Linked DNA regions of Homo sapiens: region 1 is linked to region 2. The links come from fine-mapping of genetic effects on gene expression. Tissue or cell type: whole blood. Region 2 holds a variant in brackets; the other region holds the start of a gene. All regions are shown on one strand. Distances are from middle to middle.

Region 1 (8,092 bases), 190 kb after region 2:
CCTGGTTCACTACACTTTCAAGGGGATATTTAGGCTTTTATTTTTTCATTTTCCTCTTTTAGAGATAGCAGTTATTCAGCACCCACTAACAGTATTTAACTCTCCGAACAAGGCCATGAGGTAAGAATGATTACTCCCACTGCAAAGATGAGGAAACTGAGGGTCAGAGAGGTTCAATGCATCAGTGAAGGTCACTAAGCACAAAGAGGTAAACAGCTAGGTCTCACTCAATGCCAATAAGTGGATTTGTGCCATTTCCCTTTAATGTCTACTACTAGCTCAAAAACATTACTAGTTCCCAAATGGTTCAGCTTGGCATTTGAAGCCCGTTACAATTTAGTTCTGAATTTCTCCAACTTTACACCCTAACGTTCCCCTCCATGTGTACCATGGTCTAGCCCGGCAAGGTCCTTCACTGTTCCAAGAAATAACCTGCCCGCCTCCCCGCATGATTCCTAGAAGATCCCACCCAAAGTCCCCCACCCTTGGACTCTCGGGCAAGGGCCACAGGACTCGTGCCAGCTCAGGGAATAAGGGTGATGCTACTGTGCAAAGTGGACAGGCTCCCAGGGCTCCGGATCATGTCCCTCAACTAACACCGTCCCTTACCTCCCAGCATGCAGGCACACAGGCAAGGGGTCTCAGGCTCCACACACTCTTACAGCAGAGAGAAAACCCTTCCCTTTCCACCCTAAACAGCCACACTTCACCCACAGGCAGCTTCATTTCCAGAGAAATCCCTTCCTCTCTTCTGCGGCTCCATCCACTGCCAACGTACCAAAGCCCAGGGGAGACTTAACATGGTTAAAATTTTAAAGCATTTAAGAAGCTCAAAGGAAAGGCACGCTTGAAGTGCAAATCATCAATTTAGGGGGAAAGAGCAAAATATGGGGGGAAAGGGTATGGACACAAATGTAAATGAAACATAATTTTAAACAATATTTTGAATAAACTGCTTTAACATACATGTCCTGAGCCTGGGTGTTGAGTCCCGAGTTGTGCGGCAGTGCCTGAGATTGGTCTTCAGCACTCCCTCCTGCTTAGTTTACTAAACCTGCAATCTGAGGTGAGCTGGCTCTCTGGGTTTTGCCAAGTGGAGAATAACAGTTCTGTGATGAGTTACTTAACAGGCAGGGCACACAATGACAAGCCTGGGCTGGGCTGCTGAAGCAGCAGAAATCCTAGTTGGACTCCCCTCAGACGATCCCTAAAGCCCAATACTGCAGCCTAGTACCCTATGAAAAACGTCAGGATGTGCAGAAACTGGCTAAATATGGAATAAAAGCCCTGACTTGAACAGTATGAGGCAAGAGAAAAAATATAGGTCCACTTATCTCTAAAAAAACTATAGCTAGCTTTTAAATTCTGCCTTTCTGTGCATGGCCCGCTATCTTTTTTTATGTCCATACTTTACAAGCCAAACAAACCACATTTTTTTTTTGGTATGAGAATGAAATAAATTTAGAGACACTTCTAGTGTCTAAATCCATGGAAACAATTGGGGAAGAAAGAAGACTACACGATTTTCCTATACATCAGGCATTCGTGACAGCAGGGCTCTATTTACCTCCTTCAGAAACCATCTTAAGGCTTCTCTTTAACCCTGGGTCCACCACACGAAGTTAATGAGTCTTCCACTGCAATTTCAAAAGCTATTGCATTTACACACCTCTTCCTCAACCGACAAATCACTAAAGCATCCTAAGGGGTAGCATTAAATTTTATGGTTCGTTGACAGAAAGAATAGAATCCCAAATCACCAATCCATGTGTAATTAATTGTTCATTTCCCCCACTTTTTCTACCTGGTCTCCGTACCTGTCTATATTGCCACCAGGAATTCTTTAAAAAAAACAAAACAAAACAAAACAAAACAAAAAAAAACAAACTAAGAATCACACACTTCAGGAGTGTCTGAAGACTTCTGCATGGAAGACCCCTCACACCATCCAGGAACTGAAGCCCACCAGAGTGAGGAATCAGCCTCCGGGAGGCGAACGAGCACGCTTGCTCTTTCTAATCACGTGTACTAATGAAAGTGGCAGACTAAGGAAAGAGAAACGCCAAGGGTGGCTTATGTGTTTGGTTTTCTTTGCATGAAAGGCAGAAAGCTTTGCCAGGTCTCACCAGCACACCAGGCTATGCAGAGTGGCCAAGGCACAGTTTACCGGGAAGCAAAGTTTTAAAAATCATTCCAGTTTTACACGATTATATCTCTGAATGGACTGCACGGCTTTTGCTGCCTGCATGCTCTTTGCTGTTCAAGAATAAACCAAGTCTTCGCGTACATATACTACCTATACCATTTTTTACAAAAACAACGCTAAGAGTACAATGTCAGCTCAGAAGCTAGGCCGATTCAGCACGTGGAAAGAGGGCTTTATTTCTGCCCTTCTAGATAAAACAAATCCACGTAATTTACCAGAAACCACATAAGGCACCCATTCCACCTAACATCTTCGGCTATGAATGAATGAATGAAGCAAAGAAAAAACCTCTGAAGCAGCCAAACCCCGGCGTGGACATTTAGGGGTCTGACTTCAGAACTGAAGTCTGTTCATCTAGTTAGTTCCCTCTGGCTTGTTTCAGGATACCACTCTCTTGTTCCAACCCAACCACCCGTAGTCCATCTCCATTAACTCAGAATTTTCTGGGTTTGCGGTGACACTAAATGTCACAGTAACGAGGGTTACAGGAATTCGGAAAAGATAACGCTGCTTTCAAAGCCGAGGAGCCAGTAAAACACTACAAACGTCCCCTGCCGGCATGCTCCAGCACACAGCCCGACGCCCTGCTCTCCCGGCCGGCGCTCGGCCGCAGGACCGCGCTGTCCCGGCTCCTCTCGGCGCTCACCATCCTCCCGAATGCCCAGGGCCCGGCCGTCCGGAGCGGCGGCACGAGGACGCGGAACCGCAGAGCGGCTCACACGGTCCCCACAGCCAGATCACTCGGCCCCTGGAGCATGTTAAAAACACAGCCACAGAAGAGGGATTCTCCCTGAAGCGGGGAGTGGGGATGGAAAATGCAAGCGCAGGAGGCCACGTCCGGCTCGCGCGGGAGGGCCGGGGGCCGGGTTGGGCAGAGGGTAACGCTGGGGCCGCAAGGGAACGGCCGGGACTGGCCTCGCTCGGGGCGCAGGGGCGCACTGGCCCCTGGCTCGCACGGGCCCTGGGGCTTTACTTGGCACGGGAGCGGCCGCCCCTGCCCCCCAAAGGTAAAGGGCAAAGAAGGTGGCAGAAACACGGAACCCACGCCCCGCGGAGTGACAGGGGGAAAGGGACGAGGATTTGCAGCCGCTGGTATCAAAGGGCTGAAAAGAAACTTGGACTCCTCTCTCCTGCTGTACATGACGCGTTGGAAAAGCGGTCGCCTCTCTCTCCTCTCCTCCCCACCCCCTTTGTGTTTCCCAACACCCCCATCCCTAAACTTCCAACCGCAGGGGATGGGGCTCCCGGCGGCCGGACAAGACTCGAATTACGACGAGCAGAGAGAGGGGCGACGTCCACGAGAGGGGGCAGAGAAAGGCTGCGGGGGCCGCCCTTTCGGAGCCCGGCGTGCGCAGAGGGGCCGGGTGCACCCCTGCCCTGGGCACTCGGCGCGGAGGCCCGGGACGAGGGCGGGCGACGCGAGCGGAGGTCCGGGCGGAGGAGCGCAGGGGCGGCGCGGAGAGGGCAGGGGACAGGGGCGCAGGGTGGGGGGTGGGCGCAGGGGCCCGGCCGCGGCAGGGCGCTCCACTCACCTTCCTGCCGGCGCCGCCGCCCGCGCCCCCGGCCAGCGCAGAGCCGCCCCCCGAGTACATGTAGTAGGCGATGCCCAGCACCCACAGGAAGGCGAAGCAGAGCAGCATCCGCGAGCGCCGCCGCATTCTCCCAACTCGGCCGCCGGCGGGGCCGCCGCTGCTCGCGAGTGCTGCCTGGGCCGGCCGCGGGCGCGGTGGGGGCCGGGGGAGGAGCGGAGGAAGGGGAAGGGCGCGGCGGCGGCTCCTCCTCCCGCGCGGTGCTACTGCTCGGCGGCGGCGCGCACTCGGCGCCCGAGCTCCGCCCCGGGCCGGCGGCGCCGCGCGGCACCAGAGCAGGAAGCAGCGGCCTCGGAGGCGGCGAGGGGGGTCAGGGAGCAAAGGGCGACCAATCGGCGGCGGCTGCGGGGGCCGGGGCGCGGGCCGCGGGAGGGGACTGCCGCGTCTCCATGGCTGCAGCACGCCGGGCTCCGCCGTGAGGGCCTGGGCGCCGCCCCGCCCCCGGCCGCCCGCCCCTCAGCGTGCTCCCCCCGCCGGCCGCCCCCTCCCCCGTGAGTGACAGGTGGCTGCCCCGGGACCCGACTGGAGCGCGCGCACACGTGGGCAAAGAGCCTTGCTCACGCACACGGGGCCTCTCGATTACGGGGGCGGTAGTGGCCTCGGTGCTTCCTGCCCAGACTGTCACCTCTTCAGCCTTGGTCTTTGGGGCCACCTCAGACCCTTAACGGGCTTGCTCTTATTGGCCAACTGACCTGAGTTTTTGGTGCAAACCGCCCGCTTGAACCCGACTTTGCTGCTGCTTGCTGCAGTTTTCTCACTAATCTTGCAGCAAAACATTCCTGACCCGCTGGTATCGATTTTATTTATCTATATAGGCAGATGTGGAGGTTTTGAGTTGGTAGGAACTGAGAAGGTAATTTTCAAAAGAACATTTTTCTGTGGGTGACAGAGCTATCAATGGTAGAGTTGTTCTTTTCAATAAACACAAAATGAGGAAGAAGGAAAGCAATAATATATTGTTTAAAATCTTTTCTTTCTCATTCGTTGCGTTCTTTAAAAAGCACATTAAGCATCTTTAACGATACAAGAAAACGATCTGTCTTGTAACATAATCTATGTAACCTTGGTGATGCCCTTGCAACACGCAAAGCTTCCAGTGTTCCTAAGAAAGACAGAAATTTTACTTAGAACTTGATATATTAAATGTTTTCAGGAGCTTCTCGGTCAGAGGATAATGGCAGCTGCCTGATATAAGTCCGTACCCATATCCTCAACGAAACAAAAACAAGCCTTCAGCATTACTTAGAGAGAATGCCATGAACTGAACATTAAATTACTTAAGTAGAAGAAAGAAAAGATACCAAATTCCAACTGAGCTCCCTCCACTATTGCCAAGGACTTAAGTGAAGTACAGGGTTGTCACCTCTTTATAAATAGAAAGTCCAACACCAAGAACTAAAAACTGAACAGAGGTCAGGTGCCTTATTGATCAAGGGAAGAGATTTGAAAGAAAATGGGACAAGAGGTGAGAGGCTTGAAGGAGCCTTGTTTCTGGGAAAAAGTCAGATAAATACGAAAAGAAGATAATGTCCTTCAGAGGCCTGACAATGAAGGGAAAGAAGGAAGTCAGAAGGGAAAATTACAAATCCTGCAGAAATGAAAGAGAAGACAGCCAGTCCCCTCCCCAAACACCAACATTATCTATTAAAAACTGCATTTCAGTACACAGATAAAAGAAAACACTCTTGAACCGGGAACCCTGCCTCAAAATGCCTAGTAACAGAAAAACATCAAATCAACTGCATTTAAAGATTCTGCAAAAAGAAAACAGAAATCACATTTCTGATGATAAAAAATAAATCATAACATTTTCGCTGATGAAAACCCCCACAATAAAAACCATGAAGCATAAGAAAATTGTAATACCACATGTCAAACTGAACAAAGTGTCACGTATTTGTATACACATACACACACACACACATATCTAGGATAAGAAATTTCAAGAACTGAAGACAGACTAGACAAAAATTAGGAAGAAATGCAACAAGGGTTGAGCAAATTCAAGAAGGAAATTGAAAGTAATGACAAAAACTATCCCAGAAACAAAGAATAATTACAAGGTGTCCAAGGGAAAATATATTCAAATGAAAATATGTAAAAGGACACTGAAGAATGGCAAGAAAACAATCAAGAAATTGAAAATAATATAAAGATAGAAGTAAAAAGGTTCAGAGAGAAGAGGTTAAAATAAAAGCCAGGAAAGGAAGACCAAAATACATGTTAAGTGGAGTCCCTAAAGTACAAACATTAAACAATAAAACCTAATTAATATTAAAACTATAACCCCAGAAAATAATCCAGGAATAAGGGAAAATTTAAATGTACATGTCAAAAGTGACTTCCATGTACCTTGGGAAATGATCTGGAATTATCAACTCCTAAATATATTTTAGTAAAACGATTAGATTTTAAAGGCAAAAAAGATCAAATTGCTTATAGAGATAAAAATTTATGCTGGCATCAGACTTCTGAACAGCAACATGCAAAGCCAGGCAACAGTGGAGCAGCATTAACAAGGAACAAAAGTGCCAGGCAGGCTGGGCATAGTGGCTCATGCCTGTAATCCCAGCACTTTGGGAGGCCAGAGTGGGTGGATCACCTGAGGTCAGGAGTTCAAGACCAGCCTGGCCAAAGTGGTGAAACCCCATCACTAAAAAAAATATGAAACTTAGCCGGCAGGTGCCTGTAATCGCAGCTACTCGAGAGGCTGAGGTGGAAGAATCATTTGAACCCGGGAGGCAGAGGTTGCAGTGAGCTGAGATCATGCCATTGCACTCCAGCCTGGGTGACAGAGCGAGACTCCATGACACACACACAAAAAAGTACCAGGCAGTGATTTTTATACCCAGCCCTCAAGTGTCAAGGTTGTAGGCAAACAGATATGACCTGAATGCAAAAATTCAGAGAACGTGACTCACATGGGCCTTTCATGAGGAATCTTAGAGAATGAGCTTCCTCCAACCAAGAGACAGCTGAGGAAGCCAGCAGAGTGACTAATGGAGAGCATTTTGTATATTCAGAAGGTGAAAGACTAGTGTATATACATTATACTTTCTGATAAACTTAGAACAGGTGCAACTAAAGACAACTGGAGGAGAAGGGGAAGAGCGAAGGGAAAATAGAATAATATCATTGTCTGCAATATCAGTAGCAGGTAGTAGTGAAAGGATACCATATAAAACAGACAGACCAGATGTTAAAAGGTTAGAAACAAAATATAGGAATTAAGGGTAATATATTAAAAATATAAATAAAAATCACTACAACAAAATATATGTATTCCCAAATATTGGAAACCCTATTCCAAAACCCCAAAAGTTCTAAAAATAGCAAAGAATACATACCAAATAATGAAAGAAACACAGTAAGTGTGGCACAGTGATGCAGTAGTTATAATAGGAAACAATATGACACAGCTGAGACCAACCCACATCAGATATAACAATTTATAAGTGGGCTCAGTTCACCCTTTAAAATAAAAGATTTTCAAATGTAGGCATAACGGAAACCCCAACTCTGAAAAAGCAGGTGCTGTGATTCTGATATCAAACAAAACAGAGTAGGCCAAAAAGCATTAAATGAGATGAAGAGGGACAATTTATAGCCCAAAACTTCCCTTCCTAAACACTTATCAATTGTATATCATTAGGATTTGATCTGCAAAGTAAAATCATTATTAGTTTGATGGAATAAGCGATGTATGATAGAGATTAAACTTTAGACAATGTTAGAGGTAGAAGAAAAAAGGTTATGGAAGTCTTTCCATTGTACATGGGGCAGGTCTGAAGTCACTGTAGTTTCTAGACCTGGGAATCAGAAGAATAGCTAGATGTGACATGGGGCATTTCAAAGACAAAGTCAAAACTGCAAGGACAAAATGTACCTCATGAGAACAACTAGAATTCATGAGGACAAACTGTAATGTACCTCCAGTGTTGATTATGGAAATAAAAAACAAAACACAACAAAAACCCACAGTGAGATACCACTTCATATCCATTAGGATAGCTATTATATAAAATTTTTTTTTTTTTTTTTGGTGGACACTTGCTCTGTCGCCGAGGCTAAAGTGCAGTGGCACAATCTCGGCTCACTGCAACCTCCACCTCCTGGGGTCAAGCCATTCTCCTGCCTCAGACTCCTAAGCAGCTGGGCCTACAGGCATGTACCACCATGCCCTGCTAATTTTTGTATTTCTAGTAGAGACAGGGTTTCACCATATTGGCCAGGCTGGTCGCAAACTCCTGACCTCATGATCCACCTGCCTCAGCCTCCCAAAGTGCTGGGATTACAG
Region 2 (8,103 bases):
AAAAGGTAGAGTAAACACACGGTATTATAATCTTATGGGACTACTGTCACCGACCGAAACGCTGTTACAGGTGCATGACTGTATCACATCTCTGGCCTGGGCTACTGCAACAGTGCTCACAGGACCCTTGCTTCTGGCTCCAAGAGTGGAGGGGGCACTCGTACCATTGTTTCACCATAGGGTCACCACCTGGCCACCCTCTGCCCAGCAACCATACGGACCTTTCCAAAGCATAAAACAGACATCAGGCACTGCTGAAAAGCCCCAGTGTTTTCCTTCAGAATCAAATAACATCCAACGTTTCCCATGACCTGCAAAGGTGCATGGCCCGGGCCTGTCTAGCTCTTCTGCCCCTGTGCACTGTCCCCTTACTCTCTAGGTTCCAGCTACCCTTGGCTTCCATTTGGCTGATATGCCAAACGCACCTCAGCAGCCTGGATCTGCTCCTCCTGCAGGTAGTCTGATTCCTCGGGGTCCCAGAGGGACCTCCTCCCACCTTTCAAGTCTGAACTCACATAACACCTCCTCAAAGGTTCTCTTGACCATGAAAACCTCTCCTACTGCTTGTCCTAATCATGCCCGACCACATGACTGCATCTTACCTTCTTCACAGCATTGATTACTATTTGAAAATACCTTATTTAGCTGTGTGTTTTGCTGTCTACACTCAAGAGAAGGCAATCTCCCTGAGATCTGGCTTGTACGCTGTTCTATCTTTAGCATGTAAGAGAATTCCCTAGAAGGACACTTGGCTTGATAGAACGGCTATTTGCTATTTTACTTTCGGAAAGCCCTTCCGTTGGCATCTTCATGTTTACTAAAATATATCTACTCTCCATCAAGAATCGTGACTCTGTGTCACGATGTCTTGTGGTATACACAATTAGTACAGCTTGACTTTAATATTTGCTATGGTTTGAATGTTTGTTCCCTCCAAAACTCATGTTAAACTTTAATTGCCATTATAACAGTATTAAGAGGTGAGGCTTTTTTTTTTTTTTTTGAGACAGAGTCTCGCTCTGTTGCCCAGGTTGGAGTGCAGAGGCACGATCTTGGCCCACTGCAAACTCCACCTCCCGAGTTCAAGCGATTTTCCTGCCTCAGCCTCCCGAGTAGCTGGGATTATAGGCGCCTGCCACTATGCCCGGTTAATTTTTGTATTTTTAGTAGAGATGCGGTTTCCATGTTGGCCAGGCTGGTCTCAAACTCCTGATCTGCCCAAACTCAGGTGATCTGCCCATCTCGGCCTCCCGCAACGCTGGGATTACAGACATGAGCCACCATGCCCAGCCGAGGTGAGGCCTTTAAGAGGTGACCTTTAAGAAGTGACTATGCCATGAGGGCTCCACTCTCATGGGGGGGATTGATGCTATTATAAAAGGGAGAATTTGGCCCCCTCTTGCTCTTTCCTGCCCTCTCTTTGCCCTCCCACCATGTGATGACACATCAAGAAGACCCTCGCCAGACACCAGCACCTTGATCTTGGACTTCTCAGCCTCCAGAACTATGAGTAGATAAATTTCTGTTCATTTTAAATTACCCAGTCTGTGGTATTTGGTTAGAGACGCATAAAATGGACTAAGACAATGTTGCTTTTAATTGCACCTTGAATGGTTATAAAATGAACTTTCTTCTTTAAAAAATTTTCCCATAACATTTTGGGGGGTGGTGTACAGTTCTAAGAGCCTTCACACTCATGAAGATTTGTCCAACTACCACCACAACCAGGAGACAGAACAGCTCCGTCCCTCCTCCAAACATCCCTGGTGCTGCCCCTCTGCAGTCACACTCCCCGCTTTCCTGCCATCACAGCTCCTGGCCACCACTGGTCTGGCCCCATCCCTAAAGCTGTGTTTTTATGAGGCTGTGACATGAGTGGAATCATGTATGTAACTGCTTCTCTCACTCAGCATCATGCCCTGGAAAGGCGCCCAGGTTGTATCCTGCATCCGTGGAATGCGCCTTTCAATTGCTAAGTGGTATTCCATTGTATAAATGCACCACACCCACTGAAGGACATCTGTCCTCAAACAGCCCAAGGTCAGGTCCTGCTTTCAGGGTAGTCATCAATGTTTTGGACCCCGCTCAGCCTTTCACTACTTACCGGGCAAAGACAGTGCCACTGCCACCCGGGAACGTGTAGGGGTGCTGCTTCCGGAACACGTGTCCCACACGGCTGCACGGGATGATCTCCAGGCTGCCACCACACTGCCACACGCGGAACGAGATCTCTGAGACGATGAACAAGACACAGGTGACTGACAGAGCCTGGGACGCACCTCTGCAACAGCAGACACACCAAGCAGGTACAGAGGCCCCCTGACCATCCCATCATGGGGCTCCCATGCCCTCTGCTGCTGAAGGAGATCTGATAAGGACCTTCCTCCTTCCAGAACCTGATGCAGAACTCTCTAAAGGAGAGACATTTGACACACTTGGATCTCTGGACCACAATACAATCAAGAAAAAATGTTCACGGGGAAATATTTTTCAGATGTGGAGTAGACACCTTGAGACAAGAATGCTTCTTGGTCTACTGTAAATATAAAGGCCTCTTGGCATAAGATCATGTATACCCCAGTATCATCGTAACTACTGAGTGACAAAACACTTGTGCTGAATTCTTCACTAGCTGGCTCACGATCATTTGCACTTGCTTCGTATCAACACCGTGGGAAAAGGCAACACTGAAGGTATATAAATATGTACAATTAAGCTTTATTGTTACATATTCTAGACAACCATATATGCCATCTTTCTCTAAAACTTATTTTTAACAGACTGAACCCCAGGATGCATCTTGGCTTTTCTCATCCAGGGAAAAATAATCCCTTCCCTCAAATGGAAAAGTTTATTAAATACAAGTCCCTGTGTATTAGCAGGCTCAAGTCTCCAGGCAGAGTTTGGACTTACGGACTATGGACTTAGGGACTGCCTTATGGACTATGGTAGTGACCAAGGACAGTCAAGTAACTGATTGATATCTGCACGCTGCTCACAGGCTTGGACCAGTCAGTAACCAGCTGGCCCAGGTAGGAATGCTCCCTGGGGAAGGCTGCTGTTGACTTGCTTCAACACAGAACTGACCGGCAGGA[G/A]GAATGAGATGTGTAGGTCTAGGCACTACCCACACCTACTTAAACACACAGACTGCCCTGAGCATTGGAACTCAGTCGAAGCTTAGACTGACTGGTGTGCCTTTTGTGACACACAGGTACCTTCCAACCAGGTACCTGCCCTTATCACCACTGACTAGGTGAGTGACTGGAGTCTGAGTCAGGGGTCCGACTGAATGCAAGAAACAGATTCAACAAAAAAACTAAGAATTTTCTGAAAGGCAAAAAACAGTTTTTCTTTACCAGGTTTGTATAATACAAAAGGGAATTTTCCTCTGTATTATCTAAGATCCCTAAGAACATGTTAGGGAGGCAGGACAAAAATCAACAGTTACTGTGAATGACAGGACTTCATTTTTTTTTTCTGGCTGGATAGTATTCCCAGGAAATTAAGTGAAGTAAGAACAGAAAGTTGAATACCATGTTTTCACCCATACATGGAAGCTAAAAAACACTGATCTCATAGAAGTAAAAAGTATAACGGAGGATAGTAAAGGCTGGGAAGGAAGGAGTAGGGATTTTTTCAAGGATACAAAATTATAGCTAGAGAAGAGGGATCTTGCTTGTGTTCTACAGCCCGGTAGGGTGACTCTAGGGACCCATAATATATACAGAGTTTCAAATAACCAGGAGGAGGATACTGAATGTTCCCAACACAAAAACATGCTACATGTTTGAGATGATGGATATGCTAATTTCCTTGATCTGATCACCATACATTATATGTATTAAAAACATCACTATGTATCCCATGAATATGCACAATTATTATCTGTCAATTAACAAATTAAAAGAAGTAAAAATATACACATATAGTATCTACAGAGTGTGCAGTCACTGTCACCAATGCAGATTGATCAGAAATAGGGTGGGTCCATCACAGACCATACAGTGAGTTGATGGCAAATCCTGCAGGCAGTCAACCTAGTTATGGCAACAGGTGCCCAGAATGCCAGGCACATGGCAGGAAATACAACACAGGGGTCAGAACACCATGAGTTTCTACTTGGGTCCAGCAAACTAATGCCTCACTCACTAGGAATGGGTGATCCATGCAGCTGTTACGGGGCTTTAATAAGCAACTCTCTTGTACTAATAGAAAATGTATGGTTACAATCACATAAGCATAAGCAGTGAAAGTTTCCGACTTTACTTTTTACAGTTCCCAACACAACCTAAGAAGTTGTCGGCTGGGCGCAGTGGCTCATGCCTGTAATCCCAACACTTTGGGAGGCCGAGGCAGGCGGATCACCTGAGGTTGGGAGTTTGAGACCAGCCTGACCAACATGGAGAAACCCTGTCTCTACTAAAAATACAAAAAATTAGCCGGGCACGGTGGCACATGCCTGTAATCCCAGTTACTTGGGAGGCTGAGGCAGGAGAATCACTTGAACCCGGGAGGCGAACGTTGCGGTGAGCCAAGAATGTGCCACTGGACTCCAGCCTGGTGACAGAGCGAGACTCCATCTCAAAAAAAAAAAAAAAAAAAAAAGAAGTTGTCTCTATTTCAGAAAATAAAATTTAAATATCCATTTGCCTCACCACAAGATTTAGAATTAGGGGCTAGGAAATCCCCTTGGCTTCTCTATGGGGAATCTGTTAAGCCAACAAGGGATCCTTCCAGGGCTTTTGTGGGAGATTTTCAAGGCTAAGTATAACTACAGTATCTTCAGCGTTGATTTCATTTGAACCCTATAACTTTGAGGATAATTACTCAGTAAAACTCAATGGCTTTTTAATTAGGCAGTTAGTGTTTACATCTTGGTTCTGAGACCCTGGGCAAGGTGTCATGACCTCTGCAGACCACACTCCGTTAAGAAAGCACAAACAGATGATTCCCTGGAAGTACTTAGCATCATCCTTGCATGACAGGGATGTAGAGAAACACAGATGATGCCCCCAAGGAGCCTTACCCCCATTGTTAGAGTTAAGGGTTAGGTTCTTGGTCCTCCATTTTAATTGCTTAAATGACATAAGGACTTACATGATTAGGAAAATGGGAAGCTCTGGTCATTCCAGCGGGGCACACGTTGAGGAGGTGGTTTTGGATCTTACTCGGGCCTCTCTGCACCATACACCTCTCCCAATGCACACCCACAGAGGCCCCTCAGGTTGGCAATGGCTAGTAGTGTGCACGGCCCCCAGAAGCAGAAGCTAGAGCAGTGCTAAGGAGAAAGGCTCACGGCATGGCCTTCTCACGTGAAGCTCTTGAGCCCTCCAAACCTCACTGGGAGTCCAAGTCCTTGGCATAACCCAGGAGAGCCCCTCACGGAGGGACAGATGCCCCAGCCTTCCTGGGCAGAGATGTGCTCCTGCTTGCAGGGTTCATCTTCACCCCAACCTGAACCGCTCAGACCCTAGAACCTTCTAGCACAGCTACATAATAAATACAAACACCAAACCACAATAAAGCAGCTCCTTACAACAAATCTACCCCCCAGTCTCTGGGTGAATGCCTCCTTAGATATGTAAATCAACACTCTTCCTACACGATGACACAAAATGCTGGCTGATGTCTCATTTCAGCTAATAGTATGCAAACTTCTGAAAACCACACTGTTTTTGAGAAATGGCCACCTACACGATACGCTGCCCTACTGGGCGACCCTGGCCTGCTGGATTTCCACTAAACCATTAGGGGATACCCATGGAACAGGGTGACAGAACTCTCTTTAGAGGGTTAACAATTCTGAAGCCTTTTGTACTCAAGTGACTTCAATCCAAGCTTTCCCTAGAGGTTAATGTATCATTTTTTTAAAACAACCCAAAAGGAGTTTGACTCACGGTCTCTCCACCCGTGCAGTATAGTAATCGAGCCTAAAGAAGCTTTCAACATCAAACCAAGGCAGAGAAATCCTCAAAGATGAGATGGTATCACTGACTTCAACATCATAAAACAATGGAAAAATAATAGGCTAGGCTAGTCTTTTCTTTTAAAGTAACAAAAACTTTCAAAGTCTCAAAACTATTAAAAATGAGTGGCCTCATTTTCCCCTTTCCTTCTCCCCTGTCCTCCAGGGTACACTCACCCAAGGACGAATGTAAGTTAACAACACTCAGCAGCCCAGGAGAATTCGCTCAGAATGTCAAGCATTTGAAACAAAAGGCTTTAATTGAAACAAGCAAAAAAGATCTCCCCCACTCCAAACCCTAAACAAACAAAACACATCTTTTCATCTTTTATGCAGTAAATATAAGGCTACCAATATAGACCACAATGTGCAAAATTTTGCTGTGCCTAAACCTGGGTAAAAATAATTTGCATGGGGTATTTAAAAACAAAAAAACAAACAAACAGAAAAACAAATGAGAACCATTCGCAAAGGTAGTCGAGAAGGGATTAAGTGCCAAGGCCTCCCTGCCCCATCGGATTTTCATGATTTCAATTCAATCAATCCCACCAGCCTCGCCGGGGTTCATTTTCCACTCTCCACCACTCAGCATGAATCTGAGCTCCTGGACTGTTTCCCTCTGTTTTTGCAAGCCTGCAACATTCCAAACACTTGGGTTCAGACGCCTTGAAAGAGTTTGCATTTCCCTTCAAAGACTTTATCCGTATTCTGGCATCCTCCACTCTAACCTAGGGAGGCACATTTTAATGCCCAACTCATGAGACTTTCAAGAGCAAAAGGGGTGTTACATATGTGTTTGCAAGGATCGATTAAGCCCAGTGAATGGTCACTCTGAAGCCTTTTAAATTTTTTTTCCAATTGGCACCCTGCCTTTTGCAGAGCTGAGGCACTTCTCTGTCCTGAGATTTGAGGCTTGTACATACCTAGGTTCTCTCCTCCCCACACATCCATCATCATGTCGTACTTCCCCAGTTCTTCAAAATAGAACTTATCCATCACAAACAGCCCACCAGCAATCATGGGGGTTCTAAAGAGGCAGAAAGAAGAGGGGGGAGGGAGGAGAGGGCAAAGTCAAGGTTAGATTGCCAGCACCCTTGCGCCAAGGCCAAGCCTTGATTCCCTAACAATAAGCTGATCTTCAGAACAGCCACACTGCCACTGTTTTCTGCTCAGTGCCCAGCATGCCACTCTCTCTGCTTCACCACTGCTGCCTTCAAATGCCTCCCCCACTGTCCCTGCCTGGATGTTCCCACAGTGCCAGGGGCTGGACTGAGCCTCCCCTATGTGGGAGCGACTGCTGGGGCTGGATCACTACTCACTGACATGCTGCCATAGGCAAAGAACTCGGCCTTTCTGTGTGTCAGTTTCCTTATAGGGTAGCTACGAGGATTGCAAAAAATCATGGGCATAAAGCCCTGAGCACGCTTAGGAAATGCTCCACAGCACCAGCTCTCATTATCACTATCATAGATGAGACTCCACCTCCTACAAGGGAACCCACCATGCTCCTCACTTCATCATCCCAGGAAGGGGTTGACAACAGATGTACACTGAGCTCCCTACTTTGTTCCCAGAAGCGATGCTGTGCGAATTCAGTGTAAAGTGCTGGGAAGGTCTATGGCACACTGCAGATGTTGGCTAAATGTCAGCAAATATATTTCAGCGCTAAGTACTCTGTGAATGCTATCTCACTTAACCGTGTGCCAACTTGGAAGAGGTGGCCCCCTTCTCTCCCCAGCTAGAGAAGGCATCCTGACTCTCAACCAGAAAGCCCACCGCCCGGCCTGGGAATCTTAAAAGCATGGGCTTCATGAGCATGGGCTCCTTCCTCTGCAGGAGAGCAAAGGCCTGCTGGGCAGTAGCAGCAGTAAGCCTCCTGCTGCCCACCAAGCCCCTTTTCCTGGGCCTGGGGTCAGCTCGGAGATCCTGCTCTGCTACAGAAACGCTCTACATTATCAACATACAGGAATGCACAGACCTAGCAGATAGGCCTTATAAACCTATGTGAGACTTCAACTGTGGAAAAGAAATCTCCAAGGATTTTATTCTATGACCTGGTGGAAGGTGCTCATCTTTGAGCTGAGACGAGGGGAAACCGGAGGGCAGAAGGTGAACAGCCCCCACTGGGTCTCCAGGCG

What was found. PIP is the estimated chance that this variant, and not a neighbour inherited with it, causes the effect.
Region 1: GALNT2 starts here. The variant in region 2 is fine-mapped to the expression of GALNT2 in whole blood (TOPMed, PIP above 0.99).

Annotation. Positions count from the first base shown.
Region 1 is chr1:230,063,053-230,071,144 of GRCh38, reverse strand. It overlaps GALNT2 (polypeptide N-acetylgalactosaminyltransferase 2), which reads right to left and starts at 3,907. Exons shown (of 16, transcript NM_004481.5): 1 at 3,739-3,907. The coding sequence starts at 3,864. RefSeq lists enhancers at 2,098-2,177, 4,532-4,691 and silencers at 3,092-3,151, 3,592-4,401.
Region 2 is chr1:230,249,346-230,257,448 of GRCh38, reverse strand. GALNT2 (polypeptide N-acetylgalactosaminyltransferase 2) reads right to left here. Exons shown (of 16, transcript NM_004481.5): 10 at 6,889-6,992; 11 at 2,105-2,231. Among named protein-coding and RNA genes, the nearest start is that of PGBD5, 170 kb to the left of the region's middle. RefSeq lists enhancers at 1,674-2,174, 2,175-2,675, 4,784-5,444, 5,445-6,106. The variant G/A (reference allele first, on the strand shown) is at 3,096.